Linked DNA regions of Homo sapiens: all the other regions are linked to region 2. Evidence: fine-mapped expression QTL. A gene starts in region 2. Each other region holds a variant in brackets. All regions are shown on one strand. Distances are between the middles of the regions. Region 1 overlaps LOC124903543 (a long non-coding RNA gene). Region 2 holds the start of BTBD1 (BTB domain containing 1). Region 3 overlaps BTBD1 (BTB domain containing 1).

Region 1 (8,183 bases), 27 kb after region 2:
TTTCTCTCTTGTTGCCCAGGCTGGAGTGCAGTGGCGCAATCTCAGCTCACTGCAATCTCTGCCTGCTGGGTTCAAGTGATTCTCCTGCCTCAGCTTCCTGAGGAGCTGGGATTACAGGTGCGCGCCACCACGCCCAGCTAATTTTGTATTTTTAGTAGAGACGGAGTTTCACCATGTTGGCCAGGCTGGTCTCAAACTCTTGACCTCAGGATATCTGGCTGCCTTGGCCTCCCAAAGTGCTAGGATTACAGGCGTGAGCCACTGTGCCCGGCCTGGGCAAGGTTTTAAACCTTGCTAGGTTTCTATTTCTTCTTCTGTCAAATGGGGATAATAACATTGTTGTTTACCTACCTAGGATAACATAAAAGATCAGATTGTTCAATTAGACTCACAGGACTCAGTAATCTTATCCAGTATTGGCCTTTACTGAGAATTCGAAAGATACACATGATATTGAGACTTGGGCCAAGCACAGAGATGCTGAGGACCACCAGTGCAGCTCCCGGTCCTCTCTCGCCATATTAGGATGCACCCTGGCACAAAATGGACATAGGAGGTTTTTAAGTGATGCATGCAGGATATAACTTACACAAAGAGGTCAGGAAACACCTTCGTTTTATACTTCAGTAATTACACAGCTGACAGATCAGCTATATCCTGGTAAATTATTGCATAAATAAGGGCTTTTTGTTATCTTTCTGATTGTAAATGCCATCAATAAGTATTTAGGAGATTGGGCCAGGTGTGGTGGCTCACGCCTGTAATCCCAGCACTTTGGGAGGCTGAGGTGGGCGGATCACAAGGTCAGGAGATTGAGACCATCCTGGCCAACATGGTGAAACCCTATCTCTACTAAAAATTAGCTGGGCGTGGTGGTGCCTGCCTGTAGTCCCAGCAACTCAGGAGGCTGAGGCAGGAGAATCGCTTGAACCTGGGAGGTGGAGGTTGTAGTGAGCCGAGATTGTGCCACTGCACTCCAGCCTGGCAATAGAGTGAAACTCTGTCTCAAAAAAAAAAAAAGCATTTAGGAGATTGACCTGGGTCAATTCTTTTTTCTTTTTGTCCCCTTTCCTCAGATGTTCTGAAGGTTGGAAATATGACTTACTACCATTACCTAACAGTTATTTCTTCTTCTTTCCTAGTTAATACAACCTGATTTCATTTGGGCCACAACATGTACAAAGAAGGAATACCTGTCCCCAGGCCTCAGAGAAAAGTCATGATTGATTGAAGCTTAGCCCGTTCCCCTGCTAGAGATTGCTTCTGAACTCAGCATGTGGCCAATTATGGCCAATGAGATGGAAGAGTCTGGAAGCAGGCTTTTGGAAAGATTCTTGTAGCCTAGTTAAAGATAAAATCCCGGAAAGGGAAAAGCCTTGTGTTGACAAGCTTAAGAGTGAAAAACCAACGTGTTGAGGAGGAGGATTAGGAAGACATAAAGAGGCCGGGTTCTTAATGACATCCTTGAGCCACTGCAGCTAAAAAGGAAACTTCTTTCTCCAGGATTCTTATGTCAGATTTTCAAATGTCTTCATGGCTTAAACCAGATTTATGCATTCTGTTACCTGTAACTTCATGTGTTCCCAGTGAAAACAGTACCTTGTAGAGTTGCTTGAGAATCAAGACAGGCACTGAAAGTAATGCGTCAAGCATACAACAAGTTTCTATCTTATAAGCACTACCCAACATCTTTTTCTCCTTTCTTCCCTGGTTTATAAAACTTGATTTTATTTGGGCAGCCACAAGCACAAGGAAGGAGGACCTTGTTTCCAGGCCTCAGAGAAGAACCCAAATAGGTCTCAGCATCTCTCAGTATACCTTAGTCCTTTTAGTTCCCTTTCCTTTTCCTTCTCCCAGCCAGCTGTCATCCCTAAATTCTTCTGTGGTCCATGTTTCTCAACATCCATTTAATCATCAAACTCTTAGATTTGATTCCTAATTAACCTTTCCTTTCTCCTTTCGTTGCAGCCGCCATAGTCAAGACCCGTTCATTTGTAGCTTAGATTACTGCTCTTCTCAGCTCTTTGCTGCCTAGTTCATACCCCCTCACCTCATTCTCTGTATATCTACCAGACTAAGCTACTAAAATGGCCAAGCTGAGCATGTCACTCCTCTGCTTAAAAGTTTCACTAGGATGGGCGCAGTGGCTCACACCTGTAATCCCAGAAATTTGGGAGGCTGAGGCGGGCAGATCACCTGAGGTCAGGAGTTCGAGACCAGCCTGGACAACATGGAGAAACTCCATCTCTACTAAAAATACAAAATTAGGCCGGGCGCAGTGGCTCATGCCTGTAATCCCCGCACTTTTGGAGGCCAAGACGGGCAGCTCACAAGGTCAGGAGTTCAAGACCAGCCTGGCCAGCATGGTGTAACCCCGTTTCTACTAAAAATACAAAAATTAGCCAGGCATGGTGGTGTGTGCCTGTAGTCCTCAGGAGGCTGAGGCAGGAGAATCGCTTGAACCTGGGAGGCGGAGCTTGCAGTGAGCCGAGATCAGGCTACTGCACTCCAGCTTGGGCAACAGAGTGAGACTCCATCTCAAAAACAAACAAACAAACAAACAAAACACAACAAAATTAGCTGGGCATGGTGGCAGGTGCCTGTAATCCCAGCTACTCAGCTACTCAGGAGGCTGAGGCAGGAGAGTCACTTGAACCTGGGAGGCAGAGGTTGCAGTGAGCCAAGATCACGCCATTGCACTCCAGCCTGGGCAACAAGAGGGAAATTACATCTCAAAAAAAAAAAAAAAAAAAAAAAGGTTTCACTAACCTTCCTCCCCCGGCCAGGTGGCTGGGAGTTCCTAGATTATGCTGTGGGATTATAGCGTCTGGGCCATTCTACCTGCTCTAACTACCTTTCTTCTGAAAGGCACTCTCTGCCCTGGTCTTTCAGGGTTCACAGTCTCTATCTAACTAGCCTGCCTCCCTAGCTGAATTAATCACTCTCTCCTGATGAGGTTCAGGACATGTTACCCCAAAAGATAGCATCTTGGCATTTGAGAAACAGCAGAATTAGTAAGGTCACTCTCACCTCCCTCTTGCCCTTCTTTGGAGTGAATCATAAAACCCTCACTCCAGAAGTACCCTTCCTATGTGCAGAGGAAAGGGGCATTAGGAACATCCTAATCCTGAAGAGACACCAAGAAGAATCTGAACAAACAGGACTTGCTGAGTTCCCCTCAGTTTCTTTCCATTAGATCACATCCTCTTTGTCTAATCATACTTCCTCATGACTACCCACTGGCTGGGGCTGGTCCTGGACTGATAAGTACACACTTGATCTCAGCCAAAGAGCAGAGAAGCGACGGACTGACCAAGTATAAGGAGGCTCCAGACAACATGCAGACACCCAGCAGCTGGCCCTTTTGCTTTTACACATCATTGCCCCAGAGAAACTCCTGAGCATGTACACAAGGCAAGCAGTACAAGGATGTTCACTACAACATGGTTTGTAGTAGTGAAAAATTTAAACCTAGCACAAAAATGTGCAAGTTTCTTTGTTTCTTTTTTTTTTCTTTTTCTTTTTTTTTTATTTTTTTATTTTTTAAGACGGAGTCTTGCTCTGTCACCCAGGCTGGAGTGCAGTGGCGTGATCT[T/C]GGCTCACTGCAACCTCTGCCTCCCGGGTTCAAGCGATTCTCCTGCCTCAGCCTCTCAAGTGGCTGGGACTACAGGCCCACGCCACCATGCCCAGCTAATTTTTGTATTTTTAGTAGAGATGAGGTTTCACCATGTTGGCCCAGATGATCTCGATCTCCTGACCTCATGATCTGCCCGTCTCAGCCTCCCAAAGTTTTGGGATTACAGGCGTGAGCCATCGCACTCGGCCAAGTTTCCTTGTTTCTTTGGGTCTTCATTTGGAATATAAGCCTGTTTGCTTAGTTTTTTATTTCCTCTCACTACTTCTGCCTCAAATCCTCTGGTGAAAAAGTTTTTGTCTCTAAGACCTTCAAACATACTAGATAACCTAATAATTTCATCTTTCTTTAAGGCAGCCCTCCTGCCCTAAGCAGGACTGTTTGTCATCCAGGCTTGCTGTACAGCTGTCACCCCATCAATGCTAGGGGACCCCTCAGCCTCACTCCTGGGCTGCAGCTCCTGTTTCCTGAACCCCACGTCTTCCTCTGCATCGTGTACTGCCTGGTTTTGGTGGAGTAAAGACCCTTGGGAGGTAGATTTTTTTTGAAATCTTGCATCTCTGAAAATGCTTCTTTTTTTGCTCCTCTTACCTGATAGTTTAATTTTTCAAGTTCAAATCTCAAACTATCTTCATTAGATAATCTGAGAACACTTCCACTACAAAACACCTAAAAATGCTGGATACAGGCTGGGTGCGGTGGCTCACACCTATAATCCCAGCACTTTGGGAGGCCGAGGCAGGAGGATCACAAGGTCAGGAGATCGAGACCATCCTGGCTAACACGGTGAAACCCTGTCTCTACTGAAAATACAAAAAATTAGCCGGGCGTGGCAGCGTGTGCCTGTAGTCCCAGCTACTCAGGAGGCTGAGGCAGGAGGATGGCGTGAACCCAGGAGGCAGAGCTTGCAGTGAGCCGAGATTGCGCCACTGCACTCCAGCCTGGGTGACAGAGTGAGACTCTGTCTCAAAAAAAAAAAAAAAAAAAGCTGGATAAAATAGAACAAAATCATTTAAACACACATCCAAGCATCCAAGAAAATAGGTAAAAGCCCCAGAGGCTAGGAGAAAACTAAACTCTGGGACCTAGAGTCTATGAGCAACGTGGCACAGCTCTAGGGAGGTTGCCAGCTCAGTAACCTGGAAGCTTGGTTTTTGTTTACACCAAGTTAGAAGAGCAGGCTTTGAGTTTACTGGATGCAGAAAATGGATACTGACATCTCTGCAGAGAGCTGGGGCTTTTAAAGGTGATGTGGGGATAAAAGGGTGAACTAGCAAAAAAATGTCCCTGCACACAGGGAGACAAGAATGAAGACTATACGTCTTGGCCTGGACTCAAAGTAGGGTGAAAACTCTTGCTTGTTAATTTGTGGCCATTGTATACCATTGTTTGAGATTTGAGTTTCTGCTACCAGCACATTCTGGAAGCAATGACTCCCCTTACCCATCTGATTCTTCTGGCAACACATAGCACCTTTTGTGGATGTCTGGTTTAGGTTAAAAGGTGTTGTCTGTAGCTGTGGATTAGGAGAATGTTTCTCAGAGTGTAGGCTGCAGACTACTTGTATTGGAATCTCTGGGGAACTTGTTAAAGATTCAGATTCTTAGGCCTCACCCTAGAGCTAACAAATCAGAGTATCTGGGAGACTACATTTTTAACAAGCTTCCCAAGCAGTCCTTGGACACACTAAAACTTGAGGCCACTTGATTAAAGCCAAGCTGAGTGACTCTTAAAGGGCCTTTGCTTTCAGAGCTCAGCAGGTTAGTAAAGGAACCGGCTGGAGCTGGTCCTGGACTGATCAAGTACACACTTGATCTCAGCCAAATCACAGAGAAGCGATGGACCGACCAAGTATAAAGAGGCTCCAAATAACGTGCACACACCCAGCACCTGGCCATTTCACTTTTAGGCATTGGTGCCCTGGAGAAACTCCTGAGCATGTGCACAAGGCGAACAGTACAAGGATATTCACTACAACGTGGTTTAGAGTAGTGAAACAACTCAGTGGCCCATTAGTGAGGGGAATGAAAAATTGTGGTATAGTCAATACTCTAACAGTGAAAATGAGTGACCAAATGTATAAAAATCAGTGGATTTCAAAAACTTAAGTGAAAAAAACATGTAAGGATATTATTTACATAAACTTTAAATTTTTATAAAATAACTATATATTGTTTATAGGTAAAGTATATAAATATGGGTTGATCATGCCCCAATTTCAGGAGAGTGATTGCTTCTACAGATGGAGAGAGAGGACCAGGACTGCAGAGGGGATTTCAATTTTGTTTTTTTTTAAAAGAAGCATATTTTCTGCTCACCCCCTGCCCTCACCTCAATTTTTGTCAGTTACTGTTCTTACAGGGTAAACGTTTATAAAATTTACATTTTATTTTGTAACTCCAAGTAAGTTTTCTATGTTTTGCCTATAATTGTTTCAAAAATTAAAAACTTTTAAATAGCATTTCAGCTTTGTGACTATGTAAATATTATTAACTAAATAACCAATTGTTACAGCTCTTTTAGAATTTGTCTAGCAGGTTTTCTTTTTTTTGTTTGTTTGTTTTTTGTTTTTTTTTACTGGAAAACCCCCATTAAAAAAAGAACCAATTAATATGACTGGAGCCAGGGAATATTAATAAATGTAAATCCTCATGCCATTTGAAATGTTGGTCCAAGGAAATCCTTTTGGGCATCTGAAAATGATGAATCCTCTTAATCTCTTGCTGGCTTCTTTCACTTCTTTGGGGTTTCAATTTCTTGTATCCCATGTTGTCCTTTTTCTTGGACCCTCCTTTAATTTTTGCTGGAAAATATGTTTGAATAATTTTGTCATCCAAGGAATATGAACAGTAAATGTTCCAAGTTCTTGTATGTCTGAAAATGCCCTACGATTGCCTTTACAAATAACTGGTACTTCGGCAGGGTTTAGATTGTACCAAGCTTTTCTTCCTTGCTAACTATGAAGATGTTATGTTATTCATTGTTGTCCAGGATCCAATGTTGTTCATGTCAGGTGAAAGTTCTGTTTCTTTTTCTTTCTAGGAAATCCCCAAGATTTTAAGATTTCCCATTTATATTTGGAGTTGTGAAATTGTACCAAGATGTGTCTGGATTTTAATTCAATTTGACGTATCTTTACTGATGGCTCCAGGGTGCAAGGCACTGTTCAAGGTGCTGGGCTTCATTAGGGAACAAATCAAAGATTCCTGCCCTCCTGGAACTTACATTCTAGCAGGGGAGACAGGTCATAAATAATATGCATAATGCATAAGACAATTATGTAGTGTGCTAGTATTATATAGTGCTATCAAAAAAAGGAATAAATAGAGTAAGGAGAACTGAGAATGCTAGTGAGGGAGGTTTAATCTTATTTTTTTCTTTTTATTGAGGCAGGGTCTCACTGTGTTGCCCCAGGCTGGAGTGCAGTGGTGCAATCATAGTTCACTGCAGCCTCCACCTCCCAGATTTGAGTGATCCTCCCACCTCAGCCTTCTGAGTAACTGGGACTACAGGTGTGCGACATCACGCCTGGCTAATTTTTAAATTTTTTGTACAGATGGGGTCTCACCATATTGCCCAGGCTAGTCTTGAAATTCTGGGCTCAAGTGATCCTCCTGCCTTAGCCTCCCAAAGTGCTGGGATTATAGGCATGAGCCACCATGCCTAAGAGTTTAACCCTTTTACCTTAATTTTGTTCAGTGAACACTTTCAGTCTTAAAGACTCACATATTTCTTGAGCTTAAGAAAATGTTGTTCTGTGACTTCTTTGGGTATTCTCTCTCTTTCATTTTCTCTGTTCTTTCCTAATCAGACAGATGCTGGATCTCTGTGTCTGTCCTTGGCACTCTCTTATGTTTGCTGTCTCTTTGTTTTTCTTGCTCTACATTCTGAGATTCCTTGATTCCAGATCAACTGCTTGGTCTTTCGCTGCATCCAATTTATTATTTGGCGCACTTATTGAGTGTTCCCTATTGCAATCCCACTTTTAATTCCCAAGAATCTTTTCTTGTTCTTTGCTTGTTCCTTTCCCATAGCCACCTCTTCTCAGTTCTTGAATGCAGCATCTTCTCAAATTATTCTGAAGATAGTGACCACAATTTTTATAAAATCTTTCTTTCCTAAATTATCTCTGTTTCCTCCAAGGTCAATTTTTCTATTGGTCCAACTTGGATCTTCTCTTCCATGCTGTTGGTTTTCCTAATATATTTGCAATCTTTGGTTTTCTGTTTACGTTGATGAATAAAGGACTATGTTCATTAGTATGGTAGTTTCCATGAGTGTCTTTGCAGAGATGTGTAAGTCACTGTTAGGCCCCTTCCTTGGCTGACAGAATCATCTGAGGGTTCTTTGTAAGTAGGTGGGGCCTATCAAAAGATAGAAACCCTTTTAGGTTGTCTGAAGGAGAAGCAAACAGTCAGGTTAGAGACATTCACAGTAGTTCAAGTGGGCTTTACCCTCCACTGAGGGGTAGATCTCTTTAGTATTTCAAACTGGGGTCTACTTCATTCTCAAGCCCTATACCCCGCTTCAAACACTCCATGAGCCACCC
Region 2 (8,183 bases):
GCACACAGTAAAAGTACTCATTAAATGTCAGATATTTTCATTAATAACATGTCCATCTGCATGGGTATAAAACATTACTTCACGATGGTCCAGTTGGAAATGAGGGTCTGGAGCTAAGTAGAGCTTTGGAGACACATGTGGGGGAATGAGTGCGTAAAGCTCTCACTTTGGTTGATGGGAGAAAGGATGAGAGCTGAGGACTGAATACTGAAGAACACTTACCTCGTGCCCCTTCCAGCCATCACGTCATTCTCTGTTCCCCTTTGCAACAAAACTCCTGAGAGGACTGTTTATACTGTCTCCAGCTCCTCACTTCCCATTTTCTGCCTAACCTACTCTAATCAGCTGAAATCACTCTTGGCAGGGTTATCGATAGCTTCCACCTTGTCAAGATTAAAAATCAACTCAAAGTCTTCATTATACCTGACTCTCAATAGCATTGAGCATAACTGACCACTTTCCACTTTCCATAGTTGACATTTCCCACTTCTTCTTTCTTGAAATGTTTTGACTTGACTTTCAGAATATAATGCTCCTTCTTTCTCTTCTAATTCCACTGACAGCTGCTTCTCAGTTTCATTTTATGCTTTTTCTCTGCTACATCTCTACATATTTGAAGATTCCAGAGCTCATCCTTGTACCTCTCTTCACAGTCTACATGCCTTCCTAGGTAATCTCACTTGATCTCTCGATTTAAATACCATTCACTCTTAACTTGCAAATTTATGTTCAGCAAGCTGTTCCCTCACCTCCAAATTCATATTTCTGTCTACTCTATGACACTACTTGGATGTCTTGGAAGTCCTCTTGGTTGTACCTTCAAAAATATATCCAGAATTTGACCATGTCTCATCATGTCCTTTGCTACCTCCCTGGTACAAGGTACAATTCACCATCGCCTCTTGCCTGGACTACTGCAAAAGCCTCTTCATCTATCACCTTGCTGCCTATTTTACTCCAACCACTGCCAGAAAGAGTTTGTTTTTTTAAAATGTAAATCAGATCACAACCTCCTGCCACCACCTCCGCCTCCCCAATCTCATTCAAAACTCTCCAAAGGCTTTCCATCAAATACCAGCTGAAAAAGTCTTCGCTCAGTCTCTAAAGCCCTGCACCATCCTGTCTGGCCTATCTTTTTGACCTCATTTTCTACCACTTCCCTCTACTGTGCTTAAGGCACACTGGTTCACTCTTGTGTTCCTCCAACAGGAGATACTTAGTGCCGAAAACAATGCGTTCCCTTGCTGAGAATGTTCCTTCTCTCATAACTTGATTATTTTTCTTCAAAACATTCATCAGTACTTGACATTGTATCTTTAGTTTCCCTTTACTAGATTATGTGCTTCATGAGGGCAAGGACTTTTTCTTGTTTATTGCTGTGTCCCAAACACCTACAACAGCCATTCGCTGTTTCACAAGCGCCCCAAAAGGGAGGCATATAGTATTTGTCAAACAACTGAAGAACATCATTTAAAGGTCAGGCAGTTCAAAGTGCACAGTTTCTTTAAGGGCTTCAAACTTAAGTTCATGAGCCTGTAAGTAATGTTAACTAATTCAGGATGTTTACAAGTATGCCCAAACTAACCTGCTCTTCCAACTTAGCAAGTACTATCAGGCATCTTTTTGTCACGTATTAGCTAACAACAACATCTACGTTACACAGCCAGCCAAAATTAAATTTAGAAATCAGTCCAGATATCAATTTCAAAATAGAACAATGACCAGAACCTGAAGGATAAATACAATGCTAGGAAAATAAAACACACTGAAAATGTAAAAATGAAAAAAAAGTTTAAAAATGTAAAAAATGTTTTACAATGTGAAAAAAAAAATTGCACTGTCCTACATTTCAAACACTCTAAAATTAACTTACTTTCTATTGATGGGAAAGCACTAATTAGCAGCTTCGGTGAAAATATTAAAATATGTATTTTTCCTCTACATTCTTATCCTAGTAATCTCAATATTTTTTCAAAGTAAAAAATTGCCCCAAAATAGTTTTAGATTTGTGGTTCTTAAATTTAGTTTGTATAAGTATCACTTAGGGAGAGTGTTAAAAATGCTACCAAGGTCTCACCTCCAAATATTACGGTATATAATGAGGATGAGATCTACACATTTCATAAGCACCCCAGAAGATTATAATGCAGACGGCCCACAGATCATTTTGAAAACTACTTCTAGTCTAGAAAATCCAAATGAACTATACCCAATCCTCCTGGTGAACTTTAAACTAAAATGACCTGGATTTTAGCTTTTGAGGTCCCCCCCCTTTATAAATGTAACTGAACTAAATTACAGAAAATATCAGAAACAAAGAATAAAGAAGAAAAAAAGGTACTTTCATCTCACTACTCCAGGTGACTTTGCTTAGCATTTTGGTATGTTTCCTTTTATCCCGGTCTCTAGGTATATGTTTGTTCCATGTCTTTTCACGTTGTAACCATGGTGCAGTTTCAAGTGCTATCCGTCATATTTAGTGACTGCATTATATCTCATCAAGTGAACCTACCACTGTTTAACCATTCCCTACAGCTGACTACTTCCTCACTACTATAAATAAAGCTGTAAATATTTTTGTATGCAATTTGCAATACTTGAATGCTTCTTACGTGTGGAAAGAAAATCTATAGCACCAAACTGTTTTCCAAAAGGGTTTTTACCACCATCTTTGTCAGAAAATGCTGTTCAGATGTTACCTTTAAATTTTTTGGTGGGATTAATGGAAGGAAAAAATACCACTGTCTTTTAATTTGCACTTCCTAATTACCAGCCAGGTAAAACATTCGTTAATTAGTTGTATTTTTTCTTTCTCTAAGTTATCTATCCTGTCCTTTATCCATTCGTCAATGGAATCTTATTATTTGTTTCTAGTTGTGTGAACTTTACATTCATTTTCTTGTTCATCTTTCTGATTCAACTGTGAACCTTTGTATCTAATTCTGTCCCACTGACCTGCCTGTTTTTGCTTCAGTACTACCCAAGACTCTGCCATTTTAATAACAACACGTTCTACTCAGGCAGCTATTTAAAACCATCTTAGTATAATGAAACAGACATGGTCTTCAGTGTGAGTTAGCTGTTTGTTACCTTGGGCAAGATACTTGACTCTTCTGGGCCTCAGTCCCATTTGTGAAATTGGGGTAAACAATTCTTACGCCTCCCTAACAGGATGGCTGTGATTAAAAGCTAGTAATGCCAAACAATCACCTTTTCATTAGATGTCAATCTACTATCCTCAAATAACCAACAAGCAAATTCTAACATCAAGGGAGGGATTCATTTATAAGCAAATGTGACCTTGTGTGTAGAAACACAAAGCAGGTAAAGCCTCACTTGTCTGTTTTCGTATTTACTTTCCTGGGTCTTGACAACTAATACGTTAATGAAAAACAAAAACAAAAACAAAAAAGTGGCCAGGCGCGGTGGTTCACGCCTGTAATCCCAGCACTTTGGGAGGCCGAGGTGGACGGATCGCTTGACCCCAGGAGTCCGAGACCAGCCTGGGCAACATAGTGAAACCCTCTCTCTACCAAAAATAAAAATAAAAAAAATTAGCCGGGCGTGGTGGCGCGTGCCTGTAGTCCCAAATACTCGGGAGGCTGAGGTCGGAGCATCACCTGAGCCCGGAGAGGTCGAGGCTGCAGTGAGCCATGATCGCGCTACAGCATTCCAGCCTGGGCAACAGAGCAAGACCTTGTCTCAAAAAAAGCGGGGGGAAGGGGGTGACAATAACCCCAAAACATCAGTCCTGCAAGATTTTTCAACTACTCTCTTCCCCCAAACAAAAACATAAAACTTCGCAAATGGGCAATCAGGACAACCTGATCTGCCCCTCTATCCTTGCCACTTGTCTAATTCTGAAGTCTGAGCGACAATCCATAATTGGAATGCGAAACGCCTTTCAATGGTAAAACGCACGCTTGCCTAATGAAGACACTAACGTTTAGTTGGCGACTGAGCCGTCCTGGTTCACAGATTTCGATTTCGACCCTCCGGAGCATCAACGGCTCGGGAGGAAACTGAGGCCCCGGGCGGGTCAGAAGAGCCCAGCCCAAGGTCATCCGGGAGTCCGGGTAGGCCGGGCCCCGGGGATCTCCCAGCCCGGCCCGGCCCGGCCCGGCCCGGCCCGGCCCGGCCCGCGCTGCCGCTCACCTCAGCAGCGCCAGGAAGGCTGCGGGCTCCACGTCCGGCAGCTCGATCTCGGCCGACGTGGTGGCCATGCCGCCGTTGAACATGGCGTCAAAGACGGCGCTGCCGGCCGCCAGCACGAAGCGGTGGGCGGGGATGCGCTGCGGGCCCCCAGCGGCGGCGGCGCCGCGACCCTTGCCCAGTACGAAGCGCACATCGCTCAGCAGCTCCGAGTTGAAGAGGAAGGCGAAGCGCTCCTTCAGCGACGCCTTGGTCGCCTGCCAGTTGTAGAGAGGTTCCCGCTGCAGGGGGAGCAGGGGCCCCAGAGAGGACGGTGAGGGCGGCGGCGGCGGCCCCGCGGGGCCCGGCTCCGCCTCAGCCCCCGACGCCTGCTCCCCAGCTGCGGCAGGCCCGAGTGAGGCCATCCTCCAGCTGCGCGGTTGCCCACGTTATGGACAAAACTCCGCCGCCATCGCCCAGGCCGCCTCCGGAGGCCGGCGCTGCCTCCCTGCCTTCCGGGAAAGGCGCTTCCGGGGGCCTCGCGCCTCCGCAGGCCCCTCCCTGACCGCGCGCGCCCCCGCACGCCCGGGTTGCCGCTGTGCGCGGCCGCGGGAGGTGTAACAGGACTGGACTCCCGGCAGCCCCAGGGCAGGGGCGTGGGGAGCTGGTCCTAGCTCAGCGCTCCCGGAGGTGGAGCTTCTGCAGGCTGGGTGCTGCCGGGCCTACGGGCACCCACCCCCTGGCTCAGTGCCCTGGGTATTCTGACTCAGTAGGTCTGGGGTAGGGCCTGAGAATTTGTAATTTTAAGATGCATCGTGGATCTGCAGGCGGCTCTCACGGCTGCCTTTTTCTTCCTGCAGGCCCCTTATCACCAAGTCCAGCGCCCCCATTGTGTATCTGGGACATGTCCCAAGGCCTGTCCCGAGGAGTGTTTTGCCTGGAAGTGGAGGGGCAGGAAAGTATGGCCAAGGGAACACGTGAGGGAGGGGATGACATGACTTCCCACAACCCTGTACCCCAAGCGTGGCCAAGTCGCCGCTCCAGAAGGCCGCGAAACCCGTGGAAATTCCGGAAGCAGAGGTGGAAGGCTTAGAACCCCAGTGACCTCTCCCCAGGTCCGCAGGTCCCTTTCCCTTCTAATTGACCCTTTGGTTCCGTCCTCTGGGCCTAAGAGACATTTCCTTCTACTGCTTCCACCCCTGTATTTGAAACCCCTCGTGCTTGCCCACCTTCTCTTGTAGCGCTTTTCAGTCCTTGCACTGAACCACTGCCTAAGCTTGAAATTTAAAAAATTAAAAACTAAAACACACACACAATGGAAAAGGCTGTATTATCCCTTCCCAGGCAGTATTTACAACCCGGTCATCATGATTGGGGGACCGAGGCCTTCCTTTTTCTCCCTTCAGTGAGGCAGGCCCTGAGTTAAGTCAGCTGTCAAAAGCAGAACGTAGAAAACCCAAGAAATAGTCCTTGACCAGGCACGTATAGTTGGAAACACCTGTTCTTTGCAGGAAGAGCCTTACAGATTACAAATGCCGTCAAGTAAATAGTAAACCCCAAACCTGGGTTTCTCCTGTAAAATCACTCCACTTGTGAAACCACCAGAGGGGACTTCCAGCTGTTAGGCATTTAGAATGGTAACTTCTTTGGGAGAGGAACGTGCTTGGGAAGAGACTTAAAGTAGTAGGGGCTGAAATAGTGGATGCACAACCCCTTCCCCATTGCCAGCCGGCAATTCCTAAAGACAAAGGGACATCATGCTACTAATGATACCATTATCACACCTAACAAAATTAACCATATCATCAAATCATCTATATATGATTTTTTTTTTTTTGAGACGGAGTCTCGCTCTGTTGCCAAAGCTGGAGTGCAATGGCATGAAGTCTGCCTTCCGGGCTCAAGCGATTCTCCTCCTCAGCCTCCCGAGTAGCTGGGGTTACAGGTGCGTGTCACCACATCCAGCTAATTATTTGTATTTTTAGTAGAGACGGGGTTTCACCATATTGGCCAGGCTCCTCTCCAAGTCCTGACCTCGTGATCTACCCGCCTCGGCCTCCCAAAGTGCTGGGATTACAGGCATGAGCCACCAGGCCTGGTCCTATGTATAATATTTAATGTACAGTTAATATTTGTTTCTCCACTTGTCTCTAAAAAAATTTTTTTTTGAGACGGAGTCTTGCTCTGTTGCCCAGGCTGGAGGGCAGTGGCATGATCTCCGCTCACTGCAAGCTCTGCCTCCCACGTTCACGCCATTCTCCTGTCTCAGCCTCCCGAGTAGCTGGGACTACAGGCACCTGCCACCAAGCCTGCTGATTTTTTTTTTTTTTTGTATTTTTAGTGTGTCCAGAGTTCGTTCCTTCTGGTGGGTTCGTGGTCTTGCTGACTTCAAGAATGGAGCTGTGGACCTTCCTGATGAGTTTTATAGCTCTTAAGATGGCAGGGACCCAAAGACTTCTTCTGAAGAGCAAAAGAACAAAGCCCTTATGTCATGGAAAGGAACCCCAACGGGTGGTTGCAGTCTCTGGGCGTGGGGGCAGGAGGGGAGGGGCCGGCGGGGGTGGGGGGGGTGGAGTCAGCTTTTACTTCCTTATTTGTCCCCGCCCATGTCCTGCTGATTGGTCCATTTTACAGAATGCTGATTGGTGCACTTTACAGAGTGCTGATTGGTCTATTTTACAGGGTGCTGATTGGTCCATTTTACGGAATGCTGATTGGTCCATTTTACAGAGTGCTGATTGGTCCACTTTACAGAGTGCTGATTGGTCCATTTTACAAACCTCTAGCTAGCCACAGAGTGCTGATTGGTGTGTTTTTACAGAGCACTGACTGGCACATTTTACAAACCACTTGTAAGACAGAAAAGTTCTTCAAGTCCTCACCCTACCCAGAAGTCCAGTTGGCTTCACCTGTCATTAGTAGAGACGGGGTTTCACCGTGTTAGCCAGGATGGTCTCAATCTACTGACCTTATGATCTGCCCACCTTGGCCTCCCAAAGTGCTGGGATTACAGGCATGAGCCACTGTGCCTGGCCAAAAATATCTTTCACAGATGACTTTTTTTCCAATCCAGGATCAAATCAATGTTCACATATTATTGACTGTGTTGACTTCTTTGAAGGTCCGGGGAATTGTGGAGTATAATGCTCCACAATCTGGATTTGTCTGGTGGATTCTGTATGATTCATGGTTAGATTCCAGGTTAAACATTTTAGGCAAGAATATGCTGGTGATGTTAAGTACTTCATTGCCTCACTTCAGAAAGCGTATGTTGGTGATGCTAAGCTTGATGACCTGGTGAGGCTGTGACTGTCAGATCCCTCCATTATGAAGGTGTATGATTCTTATGTAATAAGTAATCCATGAGGGTGATGCTCTGAGACTGTTTGACCAGTCTGTTTCCCCAAAAAGCTTTCACCTACTGATTTCAGTATCCATTGATGATTCAGAAAATTAATTCACTTACTACTTTTAAGTGTCATCCCAGGTATTCTAATGCAGGCCTTTCATAGATCACACTCTATAGTATACTATACTAGCTAGTTTAAAAGGAAAGAGATTAAAAAACATAGAATTGGACATAAGAAAGGATATATAAACATAATTGTGGAGTTTAAAAATATGAGTAATTCTATTAGTGGCTTTGAAAATATCAAAGGAATGTACTCGTCTAGAAAACCTGGACAATTCAATTATCTATACAGGACATTAAAACTTTCAAAATAATAACCTTCAGGGAAGACTGGTTCCAGATGAGCTCGTTAAACATGTTATTATTGTTTTAAAGGAAATGTTTAAAATAATACATGTTTGTTATAGAAGTAAGTAGACTTCCAGTTTCAGCCATAATGTACCAACTTGTCTAACCCTCCCACCAAAAACAACTATACAAGCTGGAGTGTGTGTGTGTGTGTGTGTGTGTGTGTGTGTGTGTAAACAACTGTTTGAAGGCATTGTTAAAGAAAAAAATTATTCTGGGCTGTTGCAGTGGCGCACGCCTGTAATCCCAGCACTTTGGAAGGACAAGGCAGGCAGATCACCTGAGGTTAGGG
Region 3 (8,183 bases), 33 kb before region 2:
ATAGTCTACAAGTACATTTTTAATTTCCATGTTAACTTAAGATTTATAATAGTCCCACATCCAACCAGATTTTTCTGTTTTAACAAACTTGTTAATTTCCAGTTTTATACTGAAGTGCTATTAAATAAATGAAAATCCAAAAGTCATGTTTTGTGAAAACCGGCACTGATTCTATTTTGACATTCAACCTAAAGAAACACAGTACAGCAAAGACAATTTCTTCAACAGGATTATACGCATGCATTTTTCAAGATTCTTGATTTTTTTCTCAAGGCTTTTATAAATGTATACTGAGATACTTTCCCTGCAACATCTATGCAAAGAAAAAACTCACACTAAACATAGTAAGGTTACATTTATTAATTGTAGCCCTAAGCCTGTAAAAATAACGTTTGATCAATTAAGGTCTAGAACTCAGCCCACTGGCAGTGGTGATCCAAACAAAAATCATGTAACAGCTGGGCGTGGTGGCTCACCCCTGTAACCCCAGCACTTTGGAAGGCTGAAGCAGGTGGATCACTTGAGGTCAGTAGTTCGAGACCAGCCTGGACAACATGGTGAAACCCCGTCTCTACTAAAAATCCAAAAAGATTAGCTGGGCGTGGTGATGCATGCCTTACAGGTTACTCAGGAGGCTGAGGTGGGAGGATCGCTTGAACCCAGAAGGCGGAGGTTGCAGTGTGAGAGATCCCACCACTGCACTCCAGCCTGAGTGACAGAGCGACTCCATCTTGGGGAAAAACAAAAAAATCACGTAACAGAAGGTCCAACCCAATCCTTTCTTACTCTATTTTTTTCTTAAGAAGTCACCCTCACTCATAAATCAGTGAGGAGGGCAGGATGCCTCAGTGACTTCTTGACTCCTATATTAACTTAACTTAAAAGTGTATTAAATGAAGTATAAAATGAAATGTTGGTTAATTATCTCCCATAATATATAAAAAAGGCCAAATGGTAACTGCTACCCCCACTCTACCCCCGCATCCCCAATATAACAGATACCTGATTCGATCACTCGTCCCACTGTAACCCCAGCGGCTTTCTACTTGCTGGAATCTATTGATGCAGCATTCCTTTCCCCTGAGACAGCATCTTGGTCGGTCAATGTATTCAACTCGGGGTTTAGGGTTGACAGTAAAATGAAGAAAGAGGTTTACCACTTCACGATCTGACAAAATTCCAGATTGAGCAGGACCTGTGGAAATAAAAACATAAGCCTAAAAAAAGGAATTTGATTTCAATTCCTAACTTTGGAATTCACTTAACGTAAATTCAAATCTAGAGGACGTAACATAAAAATAGGGGAAAAAAATCTTAGCATATATAATTTTTGCATATATTTTAAGGTTTCAATAAATCCATTTGAGGTTAAACACATTAATTAAAATGTTAAAAGCATTAATTAGTCAAAACTTAGATCCAGGAATAAATGCTATTCCTCATGGATGCCAGGAATCCTCCTTTCTCACCTTATACAAAAATCAACTCAAGATGGATCAAAGACTTAAATCTAAGAAACCATAAAAATTCTAGAAGATAGCATCAAAAAAACTCTTCAAGACATTGGCTTAGGTAAAGAATTCATGACTAAGAACCCAAAAGCAAATGCAACAAAAACAAAAACAAATGAATGAGACCTAATTAAACTAAAAAGCTTCTGCATAGCAAAATAAATAATCAGCAGAGCAAACAGACAACCCACAGAGTGGGAGAAAATATTTGCAAACTATGCATCCAACAAAGGACTAATATCCAGAATCTACAACTCAAATCAGCAAGAAAAAAAAAACAAATAATCCCAGCACAAAGTGGGCAAAGGACATGAAGAGACAATTCTCAAAGGAAGCTATACATACGTGTGCATGTGTCTTTATAGCAGCATGATTTATAATCCTTTGGGTATATACTCAGTAATGGGACGGCTGGGTCAAATGGTATTTCTAGTTCTAGATCCTTGAGGAATCGCCACACTATCTTCCACAATGGTTGAACTAGTTTACAGCCCCACCAACAGTGTAAAAGTGTTCCTATTTCTCCACATCCTCTCCAGCATCTGTTGTTTTCTGACTTTTTAATGATCACCATTCTAACTGGTGTGAGACGGTATCTCATTGTGGTTTTGATTTGCATTTTGCTGATGGCCAGTGATGATGAGCACTTTTTCATGTGTCTGTTGGCTGCATAAATGTCTTCTTTTGAGAAGTGTCTGTTCATATCCTTCGCCCAGCAGACTTGGAACCAACCCAAATGTCCATCAATGATAGACTGGATTAAGAAAATGTGGTACATATACACCATGGAATACTATGCAGCCATAAAAAATGATGAGTTCGTGTCCTTTATAGGGACATGGATGGAGGTGGAGACCATCATTCTCAGTAAACTATCACAAGGACAAAATACCAAACACCGCATGTTCTCACTCATAGGTGCGAACTGAACAGTGAGAACACTTGGACACAGGAAGGGGAACATCACATACCGGGGCCTGCTGTGGGGCAGCGGGAGGGGGAAGGGATAGCATTAGGAGATATACCTAATGTAAATGACAAGTTAATGGGTGTAGCATACTAACATGGCACACGTATACGTATGTAACAAACCTGCACGTTGTGCACATGTACCCTAGAACTTAAAGTATAATTAAAAAAAAAAAGAAGATATACAAGCGGCCAATACACATAAGAAAAAATGCTCATCACTGATTATCATACATAGGCAAATTAAAACCACAATAAGGTACCACCTTACTCCTGCAAGAATGGCCATAATTAAAAAATAAAAAAAGAAAAATAGATGTTGGCGTGAATATGGTGAAAAGGGAACTCTTTTACACTGCTGGTGGGAATGTAAACTAGTACAACCACTAAGGAAAACAGTATGGAGATTCCTTAAAGAACTAAAAAGGACTGGGGGTGGTGGCTCATGCCTGTAATCCCAGCACTTTGGGAGGCCGAGGCAGGCAGATCCCAAGGTCAGGAGTTTGAAACCAGCCTGACCAACATGGTGAAACCCCATCTCTAACAAAAATACAAAAATTAGTTGGGTGCAGTGATGTGCGCCTGTAGTCCCAGCTACTCGGGAGGCTGAGGCAGGAGAATCACTGGAACCTGCGAGGCAGAAGTTACAGTGAGCCGAGATCGCACTACTGCACTCCAGCCTGGGCAACACAGCGAGACTCTGTCTCCAAAAAAAAAAAAGAACTAAAATTAGAACTACCATTTGATCCAGCAATTCCACCACTGGATACCTACCCAAAGGAAAATAAGTCATTACATGAAAAAGATACTTGCACGTACATGTTTATAGCAGCACTACCAACTGCAAAAATATGGAGCCAACCTAAATGCCCATCAACCAACAACTGGATGAAGAAAATGTGGTATACATACACCATGGAATACTACTCAGCCATAAAATGGAACGAAACAAAGGCTTTTGCAGCAACTTGGATGAACTTGGAGGCCATTATTCTAAGTGAAGTAACTCAGGAATGGAAAACCAAATACCATATGGTCTTACTTATAAGTGGGAGCTAAGAAACTATGAGGAGGCAAAGGCCTAAGAATGATATAATGAACTTTGGGGACTTGGGGGGAATGGTAGGAGGGAGGTGAGCGATAAAAGCCTACATGTTTGGTACCATTCCCCAACATGGTGAAACCCCATCTCTACTAAAAACACAAAATTTAGCCAAGGGCGGTGGTGGGTGCCTGTGATCCTAGCTACTAAGGAGGCTGAGGCAGGAGAATCACTTGAACCTGGAAGGTGGAGGTTGCACTGAGATGAAATTGTGCCACTGCACTCCAGGCTGGGTGACAGTCTTACTCTGTCTCAAAAAAAAAAAAAAAAAAACAGAATAGAATTGCATTCAAATGATAGATGGGAATAACTGTCAACCTTGAGCTTTCTACCCAGAAAAATATCCTTCAAAAATGAAGGCAAGCTGGGCTCAGCAGTGTGCCCCTCTAGTCCCAGCTACTCAGGAGGCTGGGGTGGGAGGATTGTTTGAGGCCAGAATTTTGAAGCTGTGAATAGCCACTGCACTCCAGCCAGGGAAACACAGCAGGGCCCCATCTCTTTTTTTAAAAAAAATGGTAAGATAAAGATGTTTTTAGACAAAAGAAAAAAAGAGTTGAGAGAATCTGGTTAGTATCCTACCTGTTTTAAAAGAAATATTGAAGAGAATTCTTCAAGCTAACAGAAATGTGCCCAGATAGAAGCACACATCTGGTCATACAGAAAAAAATGAAGATAACTGAAAGGGCAAATATATAGGCAAATCAAAAGGATTATTGACTTTAAAAATAATGTTTTGTGGGCTTTATAACATATGAAACATTAAAATACATGAAATAGTAGCACCAAAGGCTAGAGAAGGTTAAATATAGCAAAAGTATCAATAATGCCTTTATATTGTGTAGAAAATTTTAATTTAAAAATTTTAATTTTATTTATTTATTTAGAGACAGGGTCTCACTGTTGCCCAGGTATGGAGTGCAGTGGTGTGATCACGGCTAACTGCAGCCTTGAACTCCTGGGCTCAAGTGATCCCCACCTCAGCCCCCCAGGTAGCTGGGACTACAGGTGTGTACCACCACTCCAGGCTAATTTTTAAATTTTTTTTTGTAAAGACAGGGTTTCGCCATTTTGCCGAGGCTGGTCTTGAACTCGACTCAAACAATCTACCTGCCTCAGCCTCCCAAAGTGCTGGGACTAAAGGCATGAGCCACTGTGCCCCATCTAAAAAATTTAATTTTTAAGATTTAATTTAAAAATCAATAAGGATATATTCTTGTAATAACAAGGGCAACCCACTAAAATAATAATAAAAGAATCTTTAATACGGGAGGCTGAGGTGGGAGGATAACCTGAGCCCAGGAGGTTGACGCTGGAGTAAGCTGAGATCATGCCACTGCATTCCAGCCTGGGTGACAGAGGAGACACTGTCTACAC[C/CA]AAAAAAAAAAAAAAAAAGAAAAAGAAAAAGAAAGTTTAATAGACTATTAATCATATTAAATATAAAGTGAACCAAATATTCCAAATAAAAGGCAAAGTCTGTCAGACTGAATTTTTTAAAAATGAAGCTTACAAGAGACATGGTCAAAATAATGTAAGGCTAAAAGTAAAAGGATGAGAAAGATATAGAATTTAAAAAACCTTGAGAAACTATACCAATATCAGACAAAGACTTTAAAACAAGAAGTTTAGGCCAGGCGTGGTGGCTCATGCCAGAATGTTGGGTGACTGAGGCAAGCTGATCATTTGAGGCCAGGAGTTCGAGACTAGCCTGGCCAACATGGCAAAACCCCATCTCTACTAAAAATACAAAATTTAGCAGGGTGTGGTGGTGCACACATGTAGTCCCAGCTACTAAGGAGGCTGAGGCATGAGAATTGCCTGAACCCAGAAGGTGGACGTTGCAGTGAGCCAAGATTGTGCCACTGAACTCCGGCCTGGGTGACAGAGGGAGACTGTCTCAAAAAATAAAATAAAAAACAAAAACCCACAATAAGTTTAGATTTAAGATGAGATAGACTGTAAAGATAAAGAAGCAAATTCAATATAAAAAAAAATCCTAAATTTGAAGGTACCTAAAATAAAGAAGAAAATAAAGAAGAAAACTGATGGAACCAAAAGGAAACACATTCTCAATCATACCCTGAGATTTAAATCTACTTCTTTTAGTAACTGATAGAACAAAAAGCAAATCAATAGATAGATACATAGAAAATTTGAAGATCATTAGTATATATTCCTTTCATAGATATAGTATTCAATCTGTTGAACAGATACAGGACTATTCAGGTTTTTCTGCACATAACAAAGAAGAATACATTCTTCTCAAGTATACATGGATACTTATTACAACTACCGTATGGGCCAGGCACGGTGGCTCATGCCTGTAATCCTAGCATTTTGGGAGGCCATGATGGGTGGATCACCTGAGGTCAGGAGTTTGAGACCAGTCTGGCCAACATGGTGAAACCCTGTCTCTACTAAAAATATAAAAATTAGCCGAGCGTGGCACCGCATGCCTGTAATCCCAGCTACCGGGGAGGCTGAGGCAGGAGAATCGTTGGACCCCAGGAGGCGGAGGTTACAGTGAGCCAAGATCATGCCACTGCACTCCAGCCTGGGTGACAGAGTGAGACATTGTCTCAAAAATAAATAAAACAAAATAATAAAAAATAAATAAAACTACCATATGCTGGGCCAAAGCAGATATCAACAAATTTCAAAGCATTGAAATGATATAGAATATATTTTCTGACTATACTGGAATTAAGACAGAAATCAGCAAGAGCAAGATAAGAAGAAATCTCAAATATTTGGAAATTAAGTTATCTATAATTTATGAGTCAAAGAAAAAAAAAGCAAAAATTAAAAATTCTTAATCGAATGCTAATGAAAATACACATATTAAAAACTGTGGGGGGGAAGGATGCTGAGAGAAAAAATATACACTTAAATATATGCATTCAAAAAGAATATAGGTTGACCTTCTAAGTATCTCAAAAAGTCACAAAGACTAATAAAATAAATAACCCCAGCAAATTAAAAGCAAAGAAAGGAAAGAAAGTAATAAAGAAAAAGGCAGAAAGTAATGAAATGGAAAACATACTGTAATAGAGAAAATTAATAAAGCTAGAAGTTGGTTCCAGGAGAAAATTAATAATACAAACTCTTGAACACTGGGGGAAAAAAAGGAAATATTTCTAACTTTTGTATGAGGACAATTTTGACAATTTCATTGCAAGAAAAAAAAATATATATAGACTAATTTCTCTCATTCAGTAGTCATAAAAATACATTAAAAATTCAGCAAATTAAATCCAGTAATATATAAAAAGGATAATGCATAACAACCAAGTCTGATTTACGTAAGGAATCCAAAATAGGTTTAAATTGGGAAATCAATTAATGTAGTTCACTATATTCACAGAATAAGGGGGAAAACTGTATCATTACCAAAAAAAAAAAAAAAAAAGAATAATAGCTTGATTCCTCTAAAAGAAAGCAAGAAAGGAAAAAAAAAAAAAAGATGTGACAAGTAGAAAACAAATTGCAAGATGGTAAACATAAACCCAAATATATCTGTAATTACATTAAGTGCAAGTGAACCAAAACAGTTCAGATAAAAGACAAAGTCTGTCAGACTGGATTAAAAAATTATTGGCATATTCAACATCATTAATCATCCGTGATATGAAATTTAAAACCAAAATGAAATACGTCCTCACATCCACACAAATGGCTAGAACTACAAAAACTGACAATACCAAGTATTGGAGAGGATGTGGGCAACCAAAACAAACTCTTATGTCTCTTCACTTTGTTGATGAGTGTAAACTGTTACAACCACTTTAAGGGACTGTTTGGCAGGATGGCAGGATCTACTAAAGCCGACCATATGCACACTCCATGACTTAGCAATTCCACTCGTATATATCCAACAGAAATGTTTACGTATGTATACCAAATCACACGTACAAGAATGGCCTCAATGGTCCCCAAACAGAAATAATCCATATATCCAACAACAGTAAAATGGATAAATCATGGCACAGTTGTATAACAGAATATTATAAAGCAATGAAAAAGAATGAACTACTGCCACACTCAACCACATGGATGAATCTAACAGGCGTAATGTTAAGAGAAAGAAGCCACACAAAAATGAATACACACCATATATATGATTTCCTTTATATAAAGTTTACATATGGACACAACTAATTTATAGAAGACAGAAAGTAGTCACCTTTCAGAGGGAGATTAGTGACTTAGAGGGTCATGACAAAGGCTTCTGGGGTACTAGTACAGTAGGATAAATTGGTTAAATAAGTATGTTCACTTTATTTGTTAATTTTACTATATGGATGTTAAACTTTAATTTCAAAAGTTTATTTAAAAAAAACCCAAACACTGATTCTTATCAGCAAAAACAAAAACAATCTTGGAGAAAATTGGAACAAGTATAAGTCAGAAAAAAAAATTTGGTATAATAATAAATATACAAAGAATCAATGTAAGATAAACCAGTAAAACAAAATTTGAACACACCAACAGAACAACAAAAGACATGAATAATGTAAAGGAAAATAAATAGGCCAATAAGCATAATGAAATACAATTCAGCCAGGCACACTGGCTAAGAGGTGAAGGTGGAAGAATCACTTGAG

What was found. PIP is the estimated chance that this variant, and not a neighbour inherited with it, causes the effect.
Region 1: its variant is fine-mapped to the expression of BTBD1 in whole blood (TOPMed, PIP above 0.99).
Region 3: its variant is fine-mapped to the expression of BTBD1 in whole blood (INTERVAL, PIP above 0.99).

Annotation. Positions count from the first base shown.
Region 1 is chr15:83,089,377-83,097,559 of GRCh38, forward strand. It overlaps LOC124903543 (a long non-coding RNA gene), which reads right to left. Exons shown (of 2, transcript XR_007064743.1): 2 at 6,000-8,183. It also overlaps the pseudogene LOC124903588. Among named protein-coding and RNA genes, the nearest start is that of TM6SF1, 14 kb to the right of the region's middle. The variant T/C (reference allele first, on the strand shown) is at 3,596.
Region 2 is chr15:83,062,596-83,070,778 of GRCh38, forward strand. BTBD1 (BTB domain containing 1) reads right to left here and starts at 4,657. Exons shown (of 8, transcript NM_025238.4): 1 at 4,156-4,657. The coding sequence starts at 4,556. It overlaps MIR4515 (microRNA 4515), which reads left to right and starts at 4,740; the gene lies at 4,740-4,820. RefSeq lists silencers at 3,975-4,144, 4,385-4,864, 6,741-6,790 and enhancers at 4,925-5,044, 5,055-5,104, 6,542-6,836.
Region 3 is chr15:83,029,134-83,037,316 of GRCh38, forward strand. It overlaps BTBD1 (BTB domain containing 1), which reads right to left. Exons shown (of 8, transcript NM_025238.4): 5 at 1,003-1,195. All of the region lies in intron 1 of LOC124903542 (a long non-coding RNA gene), which reads left to right. Among named protein-coding and RNA genes, the nearest start is that of C15orf40, 22 kb to the left of the region's middle. The variant C/CA (reference allele first, on the strand shown) is at 4,957.